3 linked regions of the Homo sapiens genome follow. The protein of the gene in region 1 interacts with the protein of each later gene in a biochemical or structural test. Each region holds a gene or a part of one and is shown on either strand. Other genes may lie near its edges.

Evidence for each region.
Region 2: of the proteins of MAPKAPK2 (region 1) and ZFP36L1, one has a biochemical effect on the other in vitro, tested with the Homo sapiens proteins (2 studies listed by BioGRID).
Region 3: of the proteins of MAPKAPK2 (region 1) and HSPB1, one has a biochemical effect on the other in vitro, tested with the Homo sapiens proteins (17 studies listed by BioGRID and IntAct, with this or other methods).

What each region holds. Positions count from the first base shown.
Region 1 is NC_000001.11:206,687,328-206,696,231, reverse strand, and holds part of MAPKAPK2 (MAP kinase-activated protein kinase 2), read right to left. Parts: intron 451-8,904; exon of another isoform or gene 1-450. UniProt on the Homo sapiens protein: Stress-activated serine/threonine-protein kinase involved in cytokine production, endocytosis, reorganization of the cytoskeleton, cell migration, cell cycle control, chromatin remodeling, DNA damage response and transcriptional regulation.
Region 2 is NC_000014.9:68,786,554-68,791,363, reverse strand, and holds the end of ZFP36L1 (mRNA decay activator protein ZFP36L1), read left to right. Parts: intron 1-871; coding exon 872-1,831; 3' UTR 1,832-3,702; downstream 3,703-4,810. UniProt on the Homo sapiens protein: Zinc-finger RNA-binding protein that destabilizes several cytoplasmic AU-rich element (ARE)-containing mRNA transcripts by promoting their poly(A) tail removal or deadenylation, and hence provide a mechanism for attenuating protein synthesis.
Region 3 is NC_000007.14:76,296,559-76,305,400, forward strand, and holds HSPB1 (heat shock protein beta-1), read left to right. Parts: upstream 1-6,114; 5' UTR 6,115-6,154; coding exon 6,155-6,518; intron 6,519-7,243; coding exon 7,244-7,307; intron 7,308-7,425; coding exon 7,426-7,615; 3' UTR 7,616-7,734; downstream 7,735-8,842. UniProt on the Homo sapiens protein: Small heat shock protein which functions as a molecular chaperone probably maintaining denatured proteins in a folding-competent state. Plays a role in stress resistance and actin organization.

The sequences.
Region 1 (8,904 bases):
GGTCATCAGCCTCAGACCTCAGGTGGCTGAAGGAGAGAATGTATTTGGTGTCTGCCATATCTTTGCATCCTTCAATGACACTTTTGTCCATGTCACTGATCTTTCTGGCAAAGAAATCATCTGCCGTGTGACTGGTAGGATGAAGGTGAAGGCAGGTGAGATGAATCCTCACCACATGCTGCTATGTTGGCTGCCCGGGATGTGGCCCAGAGCTGGGTATCACTGCCCTACACATCGAACTCCGAGCCATAGGAGGAAGTAGAACCAAGACCCCTGGACCTGGGGCCCAGGTGGCCCTCAGGGCCCTTGCCCGCTCAGGTATGAAGATCGGACAGATTGAGGACGTCACTCCCAACCCCTCTGACAGCACCCGCAGGAAGGGGGGTTGCCATGGTCACTGTGCACAGGACTCCTCAAATATTTTCCGTTAATAAATTACCTTCCTGTTAAAAAAAAAAAGAGAGAGAGAGAGAGATGCCTTGCACATGGAGAAATGCACTTAAACAGAGAAATAAAAGGTAAGAGTGTATCAGCAAGTTTGATGGGGAAGGATGGGAAGACCCACTTTTGGTGCGAAAGGCTCTGGAAAAGCAGCATCTGTGCAGGGTGGAAAAGGTAGATATAGACAGGACGGGGGACAGGCATGGTACAGAGAAGATGCAGATGGATAGATGCTAAGGTGTGGGGGTGGAAAGCACAGTTCTGTTAAAGAAACAACATATATAAGCCACTTAAGCTGGGGAGAAAAAAAAAGCATGTGTTCCAAAAAAAAAAAAAAAAACAGATCAGGGCCAGATCTGGGAAAGATGTGGATATCTCATGTATTCTGCAGGCAGAGAGACCCACTGAAGGGCTTAAGCTGGGAAGCTACATGATCAGAGCTGGGCTCTGGGCAAACTAATCCCCCACTGCACGCCGAAGAATCATGGGGGCAAGACCTTCCTTCCATAGCTGAGGGTTCTCAGAGTTAGCCACATGTTTCAACCACCCATCCCACCCCCTACTACTCTCTATTCCTTCTCTCTCTGGTTACACCTCAAACCTAATTTTATTTTCTTTTAAAGTATCCGAGCCCAGGTAGCCAAATCAAATGCATAAAGTCAGGAAAGTCTGAGACCCAGGAGAGGGGGCACTGCCACCCTTCCTCCTCCTCTCTGTGAGCACAGGTCACTAAAGCACATCAGGGGAAGAGAACACAAAGGGTATGAAGTCACTAAGAGTCGCAGGTGGGCTCTGCTGGAAAGGACATGATGCTCGTGAGCCTGGCAGTCAGAGGGAATGACAGCACTTGGCGTGTCTGCAAGCGCAAGTGTTTCCAGGGCAGGTTACTACATATGCTCATTTTCTCCCTGTGGCCTCCCCATCTGCCAGAGATCTGGGTGCCTGTAAGGATGTAGAAGGTATGGGATGACCCCTTGCTGGGCTGTCCAACTCAGCTGTGCAGCCAGGCTGCTCTGAGCTGCAGGGCACATGCAGCCTCCTCATCAGGTCACCTGCATTCCTAGAATTCTCCAAGTTCCAGACACACGGCCTTTAGTGTCCAGGGCTCTCCCCGCAGGACCCTTTGAGCTCTGCAGAAGCCAAGCATGACGAGCAACCTGCAGATTCCTCACTTAGAGAAGCTAGCCTTCTCCAGCTCCCGTGAAGCCTGGCCTTTAGAATCCTACTAACCTTCTTCTAGGAATCACAGAAGCCAAGGAAGGCAGTCGGGATAGGGAAAGACAGAGGGTATGGCTATTCTGAGGACAGGGGCTCCTTCTGTCAGAGTTAAAAATAAACACTTAGCAACTATGCCCAACTCTTCCTCTGCACAGGCCAATGGGCCTTGGCAGATAAATCTTTCCTTGCAGAGGAAATGTGGCCCCAGGGGAGAGGTGGGAGAAGGAGGCCATCGACACATGGTCAGAGTATGTAACTCTAGCTGAAGGCAGTGGGTTCCTCAAGTCCTATGTCTTGGTTGTCATTGCCATCACTCTCCACCATACACCCCTTCCCCCAAATAAACCATAATTCCTGAAAGCAGACATAGAGCCCTCCTAGGCCACGATTAGTATCAACACCTGTCTAGGGATTAGAAAAAATCAGAAAGAATACTAACGCCACGCTGAAGAACAGAATGCCAATGTCAGACTCTGCCCAGTATCTATCAGCTAAGCAAATATTCTAGCTACCTGAGCCCCTTTCCTCATCTTGCTCCACAAGTCTCCAGGATCCCTGGGGAGTAGAGGAAGAGGCCACACCTCCATGGACACACATCAATACTGCAGTCAAGAGGTAGAAGAAACCCATGCACTCGGTGACATTCTGCATGTGGCTGAGCTGGAAGGGCCAGAGGTGCCATGGCCTGACTCAGGAAGGAGATCCTGAGAGCCAGGGCCCAGTTATTCTTGGACGCTGACAAGATGAGGTCACACTTTTGAATGTGGTAGCCCAAAGCCTCACACTGCGGAGGTGGAGAATATAACGTAGCAACAGGGCAGGAGTACACGGTAGGTAGCATGCTCGGTGACAGGGCAGTCGGGTTGAAGGCCTGGGGCAGACTGCCCATGTGGGGCTGTCCTAGCATATAACTATGGTAACTCTGTTACCATAACCAGGTAACTCTGGCAAAGAGGCCTGCTTGGAGGTAAAACTGGAGGAAGCCAGGGCTGGAGGCGAGCACAGTAGAAGGTCTGATCCACTCTGATGAGCTTGGTCACTCTCCTTTTTGTCTAACCCTTTCCCTACTGGGAAATAAGCAGGACAGCTTCACGGAGCTTTCATACACACAAATCTAGACACCTGGAGACATAAAAACCATAGCACGTCTCCCAGCACTCAGAAGAGTGAGTTAGCCCCAAATCACCTACCAAGCTCAGGCTGGAAGAGAAAGGGGCAAGCAGGGAGAATATCAGCAGAAAGTGAGAGAAACAGGTCAGCGGTGTGGCAGGAAGCACTGGGACAGCTAACAGGGCCTGGCTGTGAGGGGAGACTGCAGCAGTGGCAGGTTTATTTTTAGCTGTTCGGCAGAGGGGCTGAGTAACAGTTCTGGGCCCTGGGCAGGAGGCCAGGCTGCTAAGGTCCGGTGTGTACTGAGAGCCTCCTAACAATGTGGATCATTAAAATGGCAGCAAACGAACAACTCGATCTTCTCCCTGTAGACAAGCAGGAGGATAAGGAGCCCCGCCGGAGGACGAAAGTGGAGGAGTCGGCAGGGGGACAGTCAGTAGATCTCCTGTTCAGCCCCTCCCCTCAGAGAGACTTCACCTTTGCTTCTGGTTCAAAAGAATCTTCATGGAGATGAGCCAGAGAGAAGGCATCAACAGTACAGCTCCCTCAGCTCCCTCATATGCTCTGAAACAGAAAAGGCTCCCATCGGGTGGCCACTAGCTTCCGCCTCTGGCCACCACTCTTCACCTCTAAGATGAGTCCTGGATGGACACTGGCCACAGAGATGCTTGGAAACGTCCCTCAAGAATAAGATGCCCTTTCATATGACCCTTTTGGAGGGCTCAGGTTCCCAGCAGAATGAGCGCACAGCTTGGCTGGTCTTGGAGGAGAACACCAGATACAAATATGGGCTGACCTTGGGGCCTTGTCCCAGCTCATTCTGGCACACAGAGGTGTTTACTGATCAGACAATAAAGACCCCAAGAACCTTTCACTGCCAGAGGCCCAGCCCAACTTTATGTCTCCTTCTACTGTGGCTTTCTTCCTCCTCCCACCAAACCTGATGGCCCAGCACACAGGACCCCACAGTCTAAACCTCCGGGGCTGAAACAGCTGCTCTAGCCTTGCATGGGCAGGAAGAGGAGGAAAGAGAACAGACATCACCAGGCAACCCCTTTTCCTCCTGCTTCCTTGGATTCCTGATATCTCTTCTTACTCAGCCTGGTCTGAGGGGCTGAGGGTCACCTGAATGTAAATCCTAATTTCCTCATCAGCTCTGTGAATCAGTCCCCAACTCTAACCTAAGAACAACCCCTAATCCATAACCATACCTTTGGTGAATTAGAAGGCACTCCTTTGAAAGAACCCAGCCACACACAAAGACAAAGCCAAGCAAGGAGACAGTGGCTGGACTTCAGCCTTCGCTTAGCTCCTCAACCAGATCCCTGTGCACAGGGAACAGCCTGCACCAGAAATCACAGTGGCCCTCAAATGCCCCATAACTTGAGAAAGGAATCTCAAACAGGGAATAGAGTTCCTCATCTCTACTTTGCACCACCACTACACTATGATTCTTCTGATTTTAAGGAAAGAGAAGATGCACACCCTGCTAAATTACGTAGTCTATCCTCTCTGCCGAGTCACCAGCATAGAACACTTTCTAAGTCTTCACACAAGAGAAGGAGCAGCTGGTCAGTGATGATTATTCATTAACTGGACACAGGCTGCCCTGGAGCCAGGCACTAAGCTTACGAAAGGGCATCTGTGCTGACCCAGATACTGCTGATGGTCAGACCCGGAGCAAGTCAGCAAGCTATCCTGCCTGCCCTCCACCTCTGGCCTGCAGCACCGCCTTCTACTGCCTCACCCTGCCGGTGCTCAGGAGCTGCTCGAGCCGACCCTCTGTGCAATGAGGCCTGGAAAGTTTAGCTGACCTATTCAAGGTCATGTAACTTGTTAGCAGCATACAAACACTGGAAGCTTTCTATTTATGTATGCACTTATTTTTGCTTTCTTATCTAGCACATAACCCATGGTAACAAGCTCATCTCTACATATCTATATCTGTGTATGTGTGTATATATATATATATATATATATCTTAAAATACAAAATACCAGTATTTTCCTAAAAACTAGAAAAGGTACACAGCAATCTGATTTGGGTTCTATAACTGCCATACGTTATTACACTGTCCAGTGACATGGCCCCTTCTCTTCACCAATGCCCCCATTTACAAGGTAACCCATGTGGAAAGATCCTAGCTGATGCGTTAGTGGAGCTCAGTTTTGCTCCACCAGGTCTACAGTCTTCTAGCAACCAAAAACCAAAGGGGCCCAGACCAAGAGCAGGTCCCAGGGAACCAGGTCTCAAGATGTGGCTCGGATGCTGACACCATGTAAGACCTTGGACATGCCACTGAACATTTCTGCACTAGGCCAGCTTCTTCCTCAGTGATGTGCAAGGAGTCAAGAAAGATGACCAGGGAGTGTGGGTTCTAAGTTACTATGAAGTGTGGGTTGCTTTGCCACTGGGCCTCAAACCATTACCAAGAAAAGCTGCAGTCCCTGCAAAGAACAACTCTTCTCTGCCCATCCACCTCCCTCCAGGACACAGAACCATCTGGAAAGATACAGTGCAGGGAAGAGGGGGAAAAGAGACCTCACATGACACTTGGCAGGGCCTGAAGTAGAGGAAAGGTAGGAGAATAGAGTGAATCCTGCACCACAGACATCACGCCACCAGGAAGAACCCCAGCTCAGAGCATGGCAAGGCTGCTTGGGAACTGGGCAATGGCTCAGATGCAGACGACTGTGCCCTGCTCTTCCCCATCTTGGCTGACATTCCTCCTGGCACCCACTCAGCACACTCCTGGGCTCTGGCTAACAGGAGCTTTGGCCCCTCCCCTAGCCCAAGGATTAAGTTTGCCTCCAGCAGTTCTGAGGCTGGGCTCTTCCAGGCCCTCCTCCCAATCCCCTGTACCTGCTTCATAAGAAAAATCATCAATTATGGATGGCCCAACCTCTCAGGTCCCAAGTAGCAGAAACATCACAGGTCCCAATACCTTCCTCCTCCCACAAAGGGGTTCTTTTGTTTCCTAGACACCCACCAATATTTGGCCCTAAGGCCCAGGGACTGCTTGTCTCTCCCCTCCTGTCAGCCACTGATCCCGTATCTTAGCTGGAGATTGTCTCCAAGCTCAGTCAAAGCCCAGAATTCACAAGTAAAAAAGGACAGTGAGCTGACCCAGCTTCAATCTTGCCTCAGTGGATGCCAAGGGCCCTGCTGCAGGAGCCAGGGGTCAGGGCTGGGGTCAGGGCTACGGCCAGGAGGGACAGGATCTCTGAAACCACAAACCTGACCCTTCCCTCATAATTCTGTAAGCCCATCTTCAATGATTCCTAACCTTTTTTGACACCTTCATGCCCCTCAAACACTTTAAAGCCTGCTTTGACACAAGATGAGTTAGCTTCAATTTGGAGCCACCAACCCCTGACCACTCTGACCTCCTGTTCCTCCCCTCAGTTCTAGCCAGGCCAATGTCACCACACCTCTCACAGACTTGCTCACTCCTCAGAGGCACAGCCATGTCCCACTGACCCCAGCTGGAGCCTCCCTTAGCTCCTGGAGTCACCACAGATTCCCCTCTTTCAAAGCTCCTCTATTCCCAGCCACACGATTTAGCTCCCAGACCAACAAAGTCTAGGAGAACGTTCTGCAAGGATGAAAATGTTCTTCTGCATTGTTCAATTCGATAGCCATTAGCCACATGTTTACTGAACACTTGAAGTGTGGCTAGCAACTGATTTTTCAAATTTAATTTAGTTTAATCCATTCATGTTAATTAATTTTAATTTAATTAGCTATGTGAGGGTAGTGGCTACCAGATTGGACAGTGCAGCCCTAGCCTACATGTGTTAATTTCACCTTCTCTAAATAAGTTTCTTGACTCAAAATTTTACAGGCCATTTTTTACATGTGTATCCTCCATGCAACTAAGCTTATGATAGATATTCAGCAAACTGTTACCTACCTGTAACCATATTGCATATAAAAGAGGCTGGCTTGGTCAATGAAATTTTCCTAACCTTGTGACAACTCCAGCAAACTCCAGTTTGGGACACTGCCTCTCACCTAGCCACACTAACTGTCTTGCCCTCCACAGGTACACAGTATGAGGTGTGTTGGAAAGGAGATGGTGCCTGTACTGTGGGGATGTGGGAGCTCTGGCATTTCCCTCCAACAGCATCCAGAATAATCATGAGAGGCTCCAATCATCTCCCCTTCACCAGAACAAAGGAAGCCACATCGCAGTGGCACTTCCATGACCTAGGGAGAGAGGAATGCTGGAGAAAGGAAAGGAAAAGAAACTACAGGACCTTGTTTTCTCTAATCCACGCAATGGAAAGATACACAGAGATAAGTTACGACAACATTCTATATTTTATAAAGCAGTAACATGCTTCACCTAATCAGAGTTGCACAGCAGAGAACAACGATACAGTCTTTAATTAAATTTGTTGAGCTAACACCTAAGGGTCACCATGACACAGTGAAGCGGCAAGCAGCTGAGGAACCCTCCCGGGGAATACAACTAATTAATACACAAGTGGGTTGAGACTAGGTGTCCTTATCAAAGAAGTAATACAGGCCGGGCGCGGTAGCTCACACCTGTAATCCCAGCACTTAGGCAGGCTGAGGCAGGCAGATCACGAGGTCAGGAGATCAAGACCATCCTGAATAACACAGTGAAACCCCATCTCTACTAAAAATACAAAAAATTAGCCGGGCATGGTGACGGGCGCCTGTAGTCCCAGCTACTCAGGAGGCTGAGGCAGAATGGCGTGGACCTGGGAAGCAGAGCTTGCAGTGAGCCAAGATCGTGCTACTGCACTCTAACCTGGGCGACAGAGCAACACTCTGTCTCAAAAAAAATAAAAATAAAAATAATAGAATTCCCATGTTCTTGTACAAAAAATAGTAAGTAAGGTGCCTATCAAATACTCTCTTAAAAGGGGGAGGGAGTGGTTAAAAAAATGCATGAAGCTACTGTTGAAGTTCCCCTCCAACTTTGGGGACTGTTCTCAGGAGCAGCAAATACCCATCCAGCCCCCTTCGCTGACCTCCCCTCTTGTCAGTCAGGGCCTGAGGTGACAGAACAGCTCCTCAGGCTGGAAGCACCCTGGAGCAGCAGGTGGCCATGTGCCTGAGCCCGTGGCTCAGTTAGGAAGTAAGTGGGAAGAAGCCTGAGACTGGGAGTCAGGCAACCTGGGTTCCAATCCTGCCTCTGCCAAGTGAATGGCTATGGTACCTTGAACAAGTCACTCCCTCACTCTGGGCCTTGGTTTTCTCTTCTGCAAAATAAGGGGGCTGGACAAAATGACCTTTCAAGTCCCTTGCAACTCTGACTGGAAGCATGACTCAGAACTTAGCAAAAGCAGCCAGGAGAGATGGTGAGGTGAGGTCAAAGCACCCACCAAAAGCATTTAAATGGGAGCTCTCTGAGGTGGAGGGAGAGAAGCAGCAGGGTGAGCTGGGACTCTTTTTCAAATGCTGATTTCACTTAACAGGGCTAAGAGGTCACCGACTATAGGCAGAGAGGAGAGCATCTAAGCAGCTGCCAGCTCCCATCAACTCTCAGGGCTGCAACATAGCAGACTTCTGAACCCCAGCAGAGGCTGGGCTCCTGCCCTCCAGCTCTGCCCTAGCCCCCAGCATTGGCCTCGGCACACTGTAGAATAGAGGTCTCCTCCCCTTTTCTCAGGCACCTTCCCAAGGGGGTAATCCCTCTTGCCCCACTCCATCTTCCTCTCCTGCTTTATAATCACTAGACTTCTGGTTTTGAAAACCATTTCACTACTCAGCACCTGAGGTTAATCAAAATTCAAGATCTAGAAATCTCTTTGGTGTGTGTCTCTGGAACAGCGTTCTTTGAACCAGATTCCCCCCACAGCTGTAATTATGTCTCAGCCAATATTTGGATATGGAAGTGCTGTTAACACTGCTGTCAGTCTCCAAATGCCTTGTCTCTCCTTTCTTCCTCCATTATTAAGTTTTAACACAAAGACGTGTGTGGGAAATCCACAATTTAACAGTTGAGTCAACTTAAAAGATCTGGGAGCAGGCTGCCTGTCAAAACAGACTGACTTCACTCTTCGCCCACTTCTAACCTGAGAGGGATAAACTATGAGTGTTATTTAACACGCTGCTGGATTTTTCCTTCCAAAACTATTCAAAGTAGAAAAATATGTAAAC
Region 2 (4,810 bases), on another chromosome or scaffold:
CTATTGACTAGGAGGTGGGTAGGGGGGTTGGTGCTTTCCTTTTCCTTTCCATCTGCAGCTTTGCGTTAAAGATTAAACACTGGAGCTCTTATCCAAGCTTGCTCTTGCAGCCAAAAGACTAATTGCAAAGGCATCTTCTCAGTGAAGGGGGCGGGGTGGGCTAGGGCTGAGTGGAAATGGTGAGAGAGATTATTGTAGAAAATATCTCTTCCGGGAACTTAGGGCAAAGAGTTTTATTTTCAGGAATCACATCCCTGTCTCCCCCAACCTCAGACCAGGCCCCCAATCTCCTCCCCACAAGAAAAAGCAAAGGCAGTCTGAAAACCTGTTGCCAAAGGAAGGGAACACTTCTGAAGGAGGAAGTTGAGAGTCTTAGGCCAGGTCTTGAAGGAGGGGGTATCAATTAAGCAGAGACTGATTGGAAGGGGACCTAACGTAGCCTATGATAGACTCCTTTCTGAGGTTTACCTGTTTTTGTCGCGGGCGGTGGCGGGGGCGGGGTGCGGTAATCTAGAGAGGTCTGGGTTGTGTGAGATATTTTGAGTTGAAGAATCTATTTGACTAGTAAAAAAGTTGAACTTTAAAGTGGTAGCTTTGGGGACAGAGGACATGGGGGTTGCATTGCAGGAGTCAGCATGGAGCAGGGTGCTTGTCACACAGTTTGGATCTTGTGGTTTCTTACGCATGGGGCCAAAATAAACCCAGGTGAATGGCCTATGGGAGGGAGAGAGGGAAGGGAGCTTGCTAGAGCCGAGGTAGAGATGAGTTCTTTGAGAAAGAGCGGGCGTTTGTGATTGTGTAGGGGGCTGCCCATAGTGGACATCCTGGTGGATGTCCTCTGTCCTTACCATCCTTTCTCTTCTCTCTCCAGGGTAACAAGATGCTCAACTATAGTGCTCCCAGTGCAGGGGGTTGCCTGCTGGACAGAAAGGCAGTGGGCACCCCTGCTGGTGGGGGCTTCCCTCGGAGGCACTCAGTCACCCTGCCCAGCTCCAAGTTCCACCAGAACCAGCTCCTCAGCAGCCTCAAGGGTGAGCCAGCCCCCGCTCTGAGCTCGCGAGACAGCCGCTTCCGAGACCGCTCCTTCTCGGAAGGGGGCGAGCGGCTGCTGCCCACCCAGAAGCAGCCCGGGGGCGGCCAGGTCAACTCCAGCCGCTACAAGACGGAGCTGTGCCGCCCCTTTGAGGAAAACGGTGCCTGTAAGTACGGGGACAAGTGCCAGTTCGCACACGGCATCCACGAGCTCCGCAGCCTGACCCGCCACCCCAAGTACAAGACGGAGCTGTGCCGCACCTTCCACACCATCGGCTTTTGCCCCTACGGGCCCCGCTGCCACTTCATCCACAACGCTGAAGAGCGCCGTGCCCTGGCCGGGGCCCGGGACCTCTCCGCTGACCGTCCCCGCCTCCAGCATAGCTTTAGCTTTGCTGGGTTTCCCAGTGCCGCTGCCACCGCCGCTGCCACCGGGCTGCTGGACAGCCCCACGTCCATCACCCCACCCCCTATTCTGAGCGCCGATGACCTCCTGGGCTCACCTACCCTGCCCGATGGCACCAATAACCCTTTTGCCTTCTCCAGCCAGGAGCTGGCAAGCCTCTTTGCCCCTAGCATGGGGCTGCCCGGGGGTGGCTCCCCGACCACCTTCCTCTTCCGGCCCATGTCCGAGTCCCCTCACATGTTTGACTCTCCCCCCAGCCCTCAGGATTCTCTCTCGGACCAGGAGGGCTACCTGAGCAGCTCCAGCAGCAGCCACAGTGGCTCAGACTCCCCGACCTTGGACAACTCAAGACGCCTGCCCATCTTCAGCAGACTTTCCATCTCAGATGACTAAGCCAGGGTAGGGAGGGACCTCCTGCCTACTCCAGCCCCTACCCTGCACCCACATCCCATACCCTCTTCTCCCTACCCATCCCATTCCCCACAGGCCCTACATTAACAAGGTTAAGCTCAACCCCTTTCCCCCAGCACCTCAGAATGTGCCCTCCCTCTCCCCCTCATAACCCCACCTAACATAAGGACAAGTCAATTTGTCAGTAGCTTCTTCTGGCTTGAAACCCCCTCCCTGGATTTTATAGCCCACTTACCATGCATAACAGACAAGTCCCATATTTTGTCAGTAGATGCCTTTTTTTTTCCGGCTTAAGCCTTAAGTGCCAAATCACAAGAGAAAAAGCAGTAACAGTTTACAGAAGCAACTTAGTGCCTTGTAATCTAACTTTGTCACTGTGACTACATTACCTCTTCAGCGCCAGAGGGCACCCGTGGGCCTCCCGGAGCCTCTGCCCATGGCGGGGTGGAGACCCGGAACCAGCAGCCCCCTCCACTGGCGACACAACTGCACCTTCCCTCATTTCAGTCTCCCGCACACTTATTCCTCCTCCCCTCTTCCCGGTGGCACCTCTCCACCTGTACCCGCCCCCCCACCCCCCCCACCCCTGCCCCTTGGAAGAGTTGTTGCCAGACCAGGGTTTTGGGGGAAACCTGTCTTGACATTCAAAACCTTTTTCTTCCCGATCTGAACCCCTGTTGACTAATCTTGCCTGGGTTTGTGTAGGTCTGCAGGAAGGAAGGCTGAAAAAGCGGACGAAGATTTTGACTTAAGTGGGACTTTGTGATTTAATTTTTTCTTTTTTTTAAGTGGGGAGGAAGGGGAAGCTAGATGGACTAGGAGAGACTTGATTTTGGTGCTAAAGTTCCCCAGTTCATATGTGACATCTTTTTAAAAAAAATAACAACAAAAAAAAAATGAGAGAAAAGCTAAAAAAAAAAAAGTAAGGGGTGAGCAGTTAATGGTATTCATTCCACATACAATATCTGTGTAAAACGATTTCCTGTAGAAGTAGCTTTAATGGTTTTTGCTCTAGAATACCGTAGGTCTATCCTTAGAGCACTCACGCCATGCTTTCTTCCCTGGGTTTTAAACTTCATATAACTTTCAGAAATTGGAGAGCAAAAATTTTGCTTGTCACTGCACATCAATATAAAAAAGCTTATTTAACTTATCAAAACGTATTTATTGCCAAACTATGCTTTTTTTTGTTAATTTTGTTCATATTTATCGGGATGACAAATCCATAGAATATATTCTTTTATGTTAAATTATGATCTTCATATTAATCTTAAAATTTTGTGACGTGTCTTTTTCCTTTTTTTCCACAGTTTTAATATATTATTCTTCAACGACATTTTTTGTAACTTTACACTTTTTTGGTTATTTTATTTTAAAAAAATGAAAAATTAATTTAAAAAAATGCAAAAAACTGTTGGATTATTTATTTTAGAAATTCCCCCCTTTGTGTTGGACTGCAAATTGAGTTTCTTTCTCTTTAGGCCTTTCACAACTAGGACTGAGAATGTATGTAAAAGTTCTGTGACAGTACAGAAGGAAAACAACTTTTTATGTATAGCTTCTAAAAGGGGAAAAAAAAAAAAAGAGAAACCCTTTGACTTCCACGTGCCCATCTCAAGACATTCCACTCACAGATTTGAGGTTCTGGATTCCAGGTCTGGAGTTTTCCAATGTTAATGTAAACAGAACTGGCACACACACATTAAGATGAATGTAATTATTATTCCTCTTGCTGGTCACTACCGTCGCTTTCTATTTCTCTTTCTTTGTGTGAATTTATTTAAAAGAAAAAAAAACTTTTTGTAACGACTATTTGCAGTTTAAAAATCAATAAACCCCGTTTTTTCAAGAAACATTGATGGTGGAGCTGGTTTTACTTGGTTTTGGTTTGACTTTGCCAGTAAGGTTCTCCCCTTGTATACCTTGCAAGTCCTGGGTAGGGGGAGGCGGAGAGAGAGGGCTGTGGCTGTGGGTGGCGGCATCTCTCATCCCTATAAGCTAAGCCTATAGCTCCCTTCCTTGATGCTGGCAGTTTGCTGCGCTTAGAGGGGACGGGGTGGAGGTTTTCTGCAAAGGAGCCTGTACTTCCTGCTGTATTACTTCTGAAAAGACTGTGCAGTGTGTTAGTTGTTGGCTGAATAGCAGCGGGCCCAGCCTTGCCGACACTTGTGTGGCCTCTGCGGTTCTTCTGGGGAGCCAAGGCTCAGGGCCTTCCAGTCCGCCCCGTCCAGCCTGTGCTCTTCATTCCTTTGGATGGTGTTTGGGGTGCCAAAATGATAAAAGAGGACCTAGCACTTGGCACACTTGCAGGCTTGGATTTGAGTGAGTTCTTTTATTGGGGTGCCTTGGGCTCATTTTGCCCATAAGAAAGAAATTTACCTCAGTACTGGCCTCTCAACACCTACCCGTGTGGGGAGGGTATAAGGAAGCACTGCCTGCTTGGAGAGGAATGTCCAGCGGGGTGAGGGGCTCAGTCACAAGGAACTGGGAACTGGGACTGGATTTGACATAGCCTTTTGGGTTTGGAGGGCTGTTAAGGGGAAGTGAGTGTTAACACTGGCCAACACAACACAGCAAGTCACCAAGGGTTCCCACCACCTTAGTTACAATCTCAGGTGCTATGCAAAATTAGGTATGTCGTCATCTTGGGAAAGGTGGGGTCTCCTTGGCTAGATGCACCCCCACCAAGGCTAGATGACCACTTAAGAGGTGGCATTTCACCCGCCGGAGGAGTTGGAACTTTCACAAATCTTGAGTGTGAGCCTTGGGAGGATTTATTTGGGGAGAGGCAGAGATTGCTATTTGCAGCTCACTTGCCTTTGGTTCCTTTACACCCAGGAAGTTTTGGGAGTTCAGCTGAGTCACCATGATTCCACCAGGCCTCTTCCGAAGGTCTGCAGCAGACATTGGGCAGGCCAGGGATGTCCCTGAGACTCGAAGACCTACCTCTACTCTCAACTC
Region 3 (8,842 bases), on another chromosome or scaffold:
TGAGACCAGCCTGGCTAAGAGAACAGCCTGGCCAATATGGTGAAACCCCATCTCTACTAAAAATACAAAAACTAGCTGGGCGTGGTGGCAGGTGCCTGTAATCGCAGCTACTCAGGAGGCTGAGGAAGGAGAATTGCTTGAACCTAGGAGGTGGAGGTTGCAGTGAGCCAAGATCACACCATTGCACTCCAGCCTGGGTGACAGAGCAAGACTCTGACTCAAAAACAAACCAACCAAAAAAAACAAAAACAAAAAAACCACATAGAACTGGGTAATTCTGATTATTCTAAGGCTCAGTATCCACAATTAAAGGCCCTCGCAGTCACCGTGAGCGCTTACTGTGCACCGAGCACTTTACACACATTCACGCACTTGAAACTGACCACAATGCTGTCAGACGGGCAGGGGCGTTGCTAGCTCTACTTTGCAAATAGGGACATGTGGGCTCAGAGTGGTCACCAGGACAGCAGCACCCACATTCAAGCCCAGCCCTATCTGTCCCCAAAACCCAGTTTCTGCCCTACCACCCACCTCACCCCCATGCTGCCAGAAACCACCCATCTCCTCTCCCTTGTGGGTGATCTAAAAGTCGTCCCTCAAGAACTGAGCCCTTAGCCAGGCTGGTCTTGAACTCCTGACCTCAAGCAATCCACCCACTTCGGCCTCCCAACGTGTTGGGATTACAGCTGTTAGCCACCGCGCCCAGCCCGTGGTGGTGCACGCCCGTAGTCCCACCTACTCAGGAGGCAGGAGAATTGCTTGAACCTGGGAAGCAGAGGTTGTAGTGAGCTGAGATTGTGCCACTGCACTCCAGCCGGCGCAACAGAGCAAAACTCCATCTCAAAAAAAACAAAACTGAGCCCTTGAAGATGAACGTGAATTCCGAGGGAGTGAGCAGAGTGTGTGGGTTTGGTGCCTTGAGTTGCACAATCTCTCAGGCAGCAGGAATAGATCCAGTCCGTCCTGGTTTCAGGCAAGATGAAGGGAGCTTGTGTCTACAAAGGGCTGGCAGCTCCCATCCAGAGCATGGCTGGGCCTGATAGAGCCACACCTGGAAGCATTTATAACCACACCTGACAGCTCCCTCTGGGGTGGGGCACCCCCAGCTCCCGTCTGGGCCAAGGTGAGCAGGCAGAGGCAGATGAGGGCCCTCCCTGGCTCCTGACCTCACCTCGACTTTATACAGCTGGGGATGGGTGGGGCTGGGAGCACTGGGGAGCAAAAACCTGGGGCTTTCTGATGCTGTCCCATGGGGTGTCAACCAGGAGCTCCCAAATGAGACCCACTGGGCTCATGACAATGACCCAGCCAGGGAGGTGAGGTAGAAGGCAGGGGTCCTGTCTGCCTCCCACCATTGGCTCCCGAGAGCCCCAGGAGTTCAGAGGCCTTTCCAGGAGTGATCTCAGATTCATGGTCCAGCCCCAGCTCTTCCCTGATGGGGAGCAGGTGGGTAAGACAGAAAGGCATCTAGGGCCGGTGGCTCACACCTGTAATCCCAGCACTCTGGGAGGCGAGGCAGGTGGATCACGAGGCCAGGAGATCAAGACCATCCTGACTAACACAGTGAAACCCTGTCTCTACTAAAAAAAAAAAAAAAACAATACAAAAAATTAGCCGGGCGTGGTGGTGGGCGCCTGTAGTCCCAGCTACTCTGGAGGCTGAGGCAGGAGAATGGCGTGAACCCGGGAGGCGGAGCTTGCAGTGAGCCAAGATCGCACCACTGCACTCCAGCCTGGGTGACAGAGTGAGACTCCGTCTCAAAAAAAAAAAGAAAGAAAGAAAGGCATCTAGGTCGGGCGCAGTGGCTCACGCCTGTGATCCCAGTGCTTTGGGAGGCCTAGGCAGAAAGATCTCTTGGGGCCAGGAGTTCAAGACTAGTCTGGGCAACATGGTGCGACACCTGTCTCTACAAAAAATTTAAAAATTAGCCAAGTGTGGTGGCACACATCTGTAGTCCCAGTGACTCAGGAGGCTGAAGCAGAAGAATCACTTGAGCCCAGGAGGTCAAGACTGCAATGAGCTATGATCACTCCACTGCACTCCAGCCTGGGCAACACAGCGAGACTCTGTCTCAACAAAAAAAAAAAAAAAAAAGGAGAGAGAGAAAGGCATTTATGAGCTCTCTCTCAAAAAGGAAACTGAGGCTCAGAGAAGGCATGAGGACTTGCTGCTTCCCCAGCTCATCAAGGTGAGTGGCCTGGAGTCTGCCCCGATTCTGGGCCTGGGCAGGGCAAGACTTCAGTGGCCTTGGCTCCCCATAGAAGTAGGAGGAGTGGAGCCTCAGTCCCAGGATAGGGACAGCAAGTACAGTGGGACAGAAGAAGTGGGAGGCCCTGGGTACTAGAGAGGCAGGAGGTTGGCTCTGAGAGCACTTTACCGGAGACAGCAGAAAGCCATTTAATCTCTGTGCACAGCAGTTTCCTTGTCTAAAAACCAGGGATAACAGGGCCGGGTGCGGTGGCTCACACCTGTAATCCCAGCACTTTGGGAGGCCGAGACAGGTGGCTGACTTGAGGTCAGGAGTTTGAGACCAACATGGCGAAACCCTGTTTCTACTAAAAATACAAAAATTAGCCGGGTGTGGTGGCTCATGCCTGTAATCCCAGCACTTTGGGAGGCCAAGGCAGGCGGCTCACTTGAGGTCAGGAGTTTGAGACCAACATGGCGAAACCCCGTTTCTACTAAAAATACAGAAATTAGCCGGGTATGGTGGCACATGCCTGTAATCCCAGCCACTTGGGAGTCTGAGGCAGGAGGATCGCTTGAACCCAGGAGGCGGAGGTTGCAGTGAGCTGAGATTGCGCCACTGCACTCCAGCCTGAGTGATAGAGTGAGACTCTGGCTCAAAAAAAAAAAAAAAAAAAAGACAAAAAAAAAAAAAACAACAACAACTAAAACAGGGACCTAAGTCAGGGGAGAAGGAAGGCTGGAATGGCCATGCCTACAAAGACAGGAAAGAGGGAATGTCAGGGTTGTGGCAGGAGCCTAGGGCAGCACCCTCCCTCCAAGCTGGGAGATAGGAGCCAGGATCCCATTGGTGTTTAGATGGATGAGGTAGGGTCAAGGGGCAAGCTCCAGGCTCTAAGCACTTCTGTGCAGACTCTACTACTTGGAGCTCCCCTCTCCCTCTGTGATGTGGGCATCAAAATCTGCAGAAAGGGAAACTGAGGCCTAGAGAAAGGAGGGGATTTGCCCAGAATGACACAGGAAGTCCAGACTAATTCAAGTTTGCGGCATTTGAGGTTCCTGGCCAGTGTTTCTTTTTCTTTTTTGTTTTTTCTTTTTTGTTTGAGACAGAGTCTCGTTCTGTCACCGAGGCTGGAGTGCAGTGGCGCGATCTCAGCTCCCCGCAACCTCTGCCTCCTGGAATGATCCTCGTGCCTCAGCTTCCCCAGTAGCCGGGATTACAGGCACCCATCACACCTGGCTAATTTTTTGTATTTTTGGCAGACACGGGGTTTCGGCATGTTGGCCAGGCTGGTCTTGAACTCCTGAACCCAGGCAATAAGTCTGCCTCAGACTCTCAAAGTGCTGGGATTACAGGTGGGAGCCACCACGCCCGGCCAACCAGTGCTTCTTAAGGAAAGATACATATAGTAGGAGATGTGACAGTAATCTTCCTCCTGGCCCCTCTCAGCACTGTGCCATGGAGGTTCTGATCTGGGCCAGCTGCGCTGTTAGGGGAAGGGGGAAAATGGCCAAACCCCATGTATTCTCCTTCCTTTTCCCTCTCTTCAATCCCAGGCAGGTAACAATAATTATGATGTACCAGGCTCCGGGCCAAAGTCATCACCTGCATTAGGTCACCAAATCCTCAGGCCAACCCATTACAGTCATGAGTCACTTAATAACAGACACATTCAACAAATTCCTTGTTAGGCAATTTCATCATTGTGGGAACATCTCAGAGTGGACTTACACAAACCTAGATGGTCTAGCCTACTACACACCTAAGCCATATGGTCTAGCCTACTGCTCCTAGGCTACAAACCTCTACAGCATATGACTGCACCAAATATTGAAGGCAGCTGCAACATGAGGGTAAGTATTAGTGTTTCTAAAGATAGAAGATGGCCAGGCGCGGTGGCTCACGCCTGTAATCCTAGCACTTTGGGAGGCCCAGGCGGGTGGATTACTTGAGGTCAGGAGTTCAAGACCAGCCTGGCGAACATGGTGAAACCCCATCTGTACTAAAAATACAAAAATTAGCCAGTGTCGCGGCACTTGCCTGTAGTCCCAGCTACTCAGGAGGCTGAGGCAGAAGAATCACTTGAACCTGGGAGGTAGAGGTTGGAGTGAGCCTAGATCAGGCCACTGCACTCCAGCCTGGGCGACAGAGGGAGACTCCATCTCAAAATAAATAAATAAATAAATAAATAAAACATAGAAGATGTACAGTAAAAACACGGTAATTGTTTTTGTTTGTTTGTTTTGAGACAGGGTCTTGTTCTGTCATGCGGACTGGAGTGCAGTGGCACCATCAGGCTCACTGCAGCCTCGACCTCCTTGGCTCAAGTGCTCCTCCCACCTCAGCCTCCTGAGTATCTGGGACTACAGGTCCACGCCACCATGCCTGGCTAATTTGTTCTGAATTTTAGTAGAGATGGGGTCTCACTGTGTTGCCCAGGCTTGTTCCAGCCTTCTGGCTTCAAGTAATCCTCCCACATCAGCCTCCCAAAGTGCTAAGATTACAGATGTCAGCCACTGCACCCAGCCAGTAATATAATTTTATGGGACCACCTTCATATTTGCTGTCCCTTGCTGACTTACACATCTTTATGCAATGCATGACTGTTACCATCATTATCATCTCTATTTTCCAGATGGGGAAACTGAGGCACAAAGAATCTAACTTGCACAAGTTCATCTGCTTAGTGATGGAACAAAGATGTGAATTCAGGCAGTCTGGCTTCAAAGTCCACACGCCTAACAACCACACCAGATTACTAGATTGCTTTTTTCTTTTTTCTTTTTTTTTTTTTGAGATGGAGTCTCACTCTGTCACCCAGGCTGGAGTACAGTGGTGAGATCTCGGCTCACTGCAACCTCTGCCTTCTGGGTTCAAGCAATTCTCCTGCCTCAGCCTCCCCAGCAGCTGCGATTACAGGCGCCCGCCACCACACCCAGCTAATTTTTGTATTTTTAGTAGAGATGGGGTTTCACCATGTTGGCCAGGCTGGTCTCAAACTCCTGACCTCTGGTGATCCTCCCACCTCGGTCTCCCAAAGTGCTGGGATTACAGGCGTGAGCCACCACGCCCAGCCCAGACTGCTTTATTTTTGTATTTGTATTTATTCATTTACTTATTTTGAGACAGGGTTTTGCTCTGTAGCCCAGGCTGAAGTGCAGTGGTGCAATCCAGCTCACCACAGCCTCTACTCACCGGGGTTCAAAGGATCCTCCTGCTTCAGCCTCTGGAGTAGCTGGGGCCACAGGCATGCACCACCATGCCCAGCTAATTTTTAAATATTTTTTGGTAGAAGTAGGGTCTCACTATGTTGCCCAGACTGGTCTCAAACTCCTAGCCTCAAGGGACCCTTCTGCCTTGGCCTCCCAAAGTGCTGAGATTACAGGCATGAGCCATGCACCCAGCCCCTTTTTAAAATTTTTTTGAGAGACAAGACTTTGATCTGTTGCCTAGGCTGGAGTGCAGTGGTGAGATCATAGCTCACTGCAGCCTCAACTCCTGGGCTCAAGCACCAGACTCCTTTTATCACATTCTATCTCACACGCGTGTGGTTCCAATCCTGCCTCTGCCACTTCTCAGTTGTATGCCCCAACCCAACCTGTCTGGCTCTGTCCTCCTTAACAGAAGGACGGCCCTGGCCACGGGCCACAGCCAGCAACGCTTAAGCACCAGGGCCGGCGAGTGCCCTGCCGTGGCACGGCTCCAGCGTCGCGCTCTCGAATTCATTTGCTTTCCTTAACGAGAGAAGGTTCCAGATGAGGGCTGAACCCTCTTCGCCCCGCCCACGGCCCCTGAACGCTGGGGGAGGAGTGCATGGGGAGGGGCGGCCCTCAAACGGGTCATTGCCATTAATAGAGACCTCAAACACCGCCTGCTAAAAATACCCGACTGGAGGAGCATAAAAGCGCAGCCGAGCCCAGCGCCCCGCACTTTTCTGAGCAGACGTCCAGAGCAGAGTCAGCCAGCATGACCGAGCGCCGCGTCCCCTTCTCGCTCCTGCGGGGCCCCAGCTGGGACCCCTTCCGCGACTGGTACCCGCATAGCCGCCTCTTCGACCAGGCCTTCGGGCTGCCCCGGCTGCCGGAGGAGTGGTCGCAGTGGTTAGGCGGCAGCAGCTGGCCAGGCTACGTGCGCCCCCTGCCCCCCGCCGCCATCGAGAGCCCCGCAGTGGCCGCGCCCGCCTACAGCCGCGCGCTCAGCCGGCAACTCAGCAGCGGGGTCTCGGAGATCCGGCACACTGCGGACCGCTGGCGCGTGTCCCTGGATGTCAACCACTTCGCCCCGGACGAGCTGACGGTCAAGACCAAGGATGGCGTGGTGGAGATCACCGGTGAGCCCCCCTGCTCCTGCAGGGGAGAGGAGGAGGCTAGCAGGGCGGGCAGGGCCGGGGGCGTGCGGTTGAAACGGGGGTCCCGGGGGCCTGGGGAGTTAAACGTTGGCCCAGCACCGGGAAAAACAGGACTCCTGATTCCCTTGCTCAGGAATTGGGAGTGCGGGTCGCTTCTAAGGGCGCTTTCTGCTCTGTAATCCCAGCGCTTTGGGAGGCCGAGACGGGAGGATCGCTTGAGGCCAGGAGTTCAAGACTAGCCTGGGCAACATAGCGAGACGCGCCCCCCCGCCCCGACCCCGCGCCATTACAAAAAAAAAGCAAACAAAAATTTTTTTAAAGATCATCGATGAAGAGAGAAAATGCGCTTTTCTACAGAGTCCCCTTCCCACCCACAGCCCCATCCCCAGATAAGCGGGGAGTTCCCTGGCGCGGTGCCAGTTTCTAGCCGCTGAGTGGGCGTGTGCGCGGCTCCAAGTGCGCCTGCGTACTGCTCACTCCCCAGCTCCGCGCCCTGCTCCGTTCCTCCCAAAACTCTGAATCGAAGAACTTTCCGGAAGTTTCTGAGAGCCCAGACCGGCGGGCACGCCCCCATCCCCAACCCCCTCTGTTAATCCCTACCAGCCTGCAGTCCTGGCTGCTTCCAAGCAGGAGGTGGGGCCTCTGGCCTAGCGGGGCCGAAAGGCAGTCCCCTCCCCCGCAGTCTGATTTCCCTCTTCCCCCCAAAGGCAAGCACGAGGAGCGGCAGGACGAGCATGGCTACATCTCCCGGTGCTTCACGCGGAAATACACGTGAGTCCTGGCGCCAGGTCGGGGTGGGTGGGTGGCGTGGGGGTGGGGTCAGGGAAGAGGGCACAGGGACCCACCCGGTGTGTAATGTAACGCTTGCCTTTCCTCTCTGCACGTCCAGGCTGCCCCCCGGTGTGGACCCCACCCAAGTTTCCTCCTCCCTGTCCCCTGAGGGCACACTGACCGTGGAGGCCCCCATGCCCAAGCTAGCCACGCAGTCCAACGAGATCACCATCCCAGTCACCTTCGAGTCGCGGGCCCAGCTTGGGGGCCCAGAAGCTGCAAAATCCGATGAGACTGCCGCCAAGTAAAGCCTTAGCCCGGATGCCCACCCCTGCTGCCGCCACTGGCTGTGCCTCCCCCGCCACCTGTGTGTTCTTTTGATACATTTATCTTCTGTTTTTCTCAAATAAAGTTCAAAGCAACCACCTGTCACTGGCCCAGGCCCTGGTGTTTGTGGAAGGAAGCCTCAGGCACCTGCCATTTGCTGGCTTTCAGGAGTCATCTTTGCTCAGGCCCGTGCTGGGCCATGTGGGTACACTGGTGTAGGTTGCTGGACACAGGCTGACTCACATCCATAAAGACAGAGGTCTTAGGGCCGGGCGCAGTGGCTCATACCTACAATCCCAGCACTTTGGGGGGTTGAAGCAGGAGGAGTGCTTGAAGCCAAGAGTTCTAGACCAGCCTGGACAACATAGTAAGACTGTCTCTAAAAAATAAAAATTAGGCAGGGTGGTACTGCACGCCTGTAGTCCCAGCTACTCAGGAGGCTGAGGCAGGAGGATCGCTTGAGCCCAGGAGTTGTGAAGGGTACAGTGAGCTAACATCGTGCCATTGCACTCCAGCCTGGGCAACAGAACAAGATCCTGTCTCAAAACAACCAAAAGCCCAGAGAGAAAGAGTGAGACCCCATCTTTAAAAGAAAAAAAAAAAAGGTCATGATTGCAAGGTCACGATTGCAATTAAAACTGTAAGGTGGGGAAGGAGGAGGAAATAAGAGAAGCACCTGAGGCTTGAGTTCTCAGGAGCACCTAGGTTGGGTCCCAGGTGAAGGGGCACAGAGGTAATTGCACCTCAGAGCTGATGGGAGGATTACTATGTCAAAAGCTTGGCATCGGCTTCAGCACACCCCAAGGACACCACAGTGGACCTGGCAAGCTTTGAGATCTCTGTCACCGCCACACTCCCTGAGGCCAGGGCATCCCTGTTGGCAGTCACAAGGGAACTGGCAAGCCGAAATGGGGTGAGAACGGAGCCCGCAGAGTCTCGGGGTGGGGAGATTGGGCAGAGCCCTGGCCAACCGACGGGCTCAGACCTGTGCTGCTGGCTGGGCCAGCAGCTCTTGTTGCCTGTGTTTATTTCCAGCTGGCCTCCCTCCAGGTGTAGACAGGCTTCCAAGGGCCCAGTTCCCCTCTCTCTTGTCTGCCCTTGCCCTAGCTGCCACCCTCTCACCAGGCCCAGGGAAAGTTGAGGTAGAAAGCAGATGGGGGACCAGGCGCGGTGGCTCACACCTATAATCCCAGCACTTTGGGAGGCCG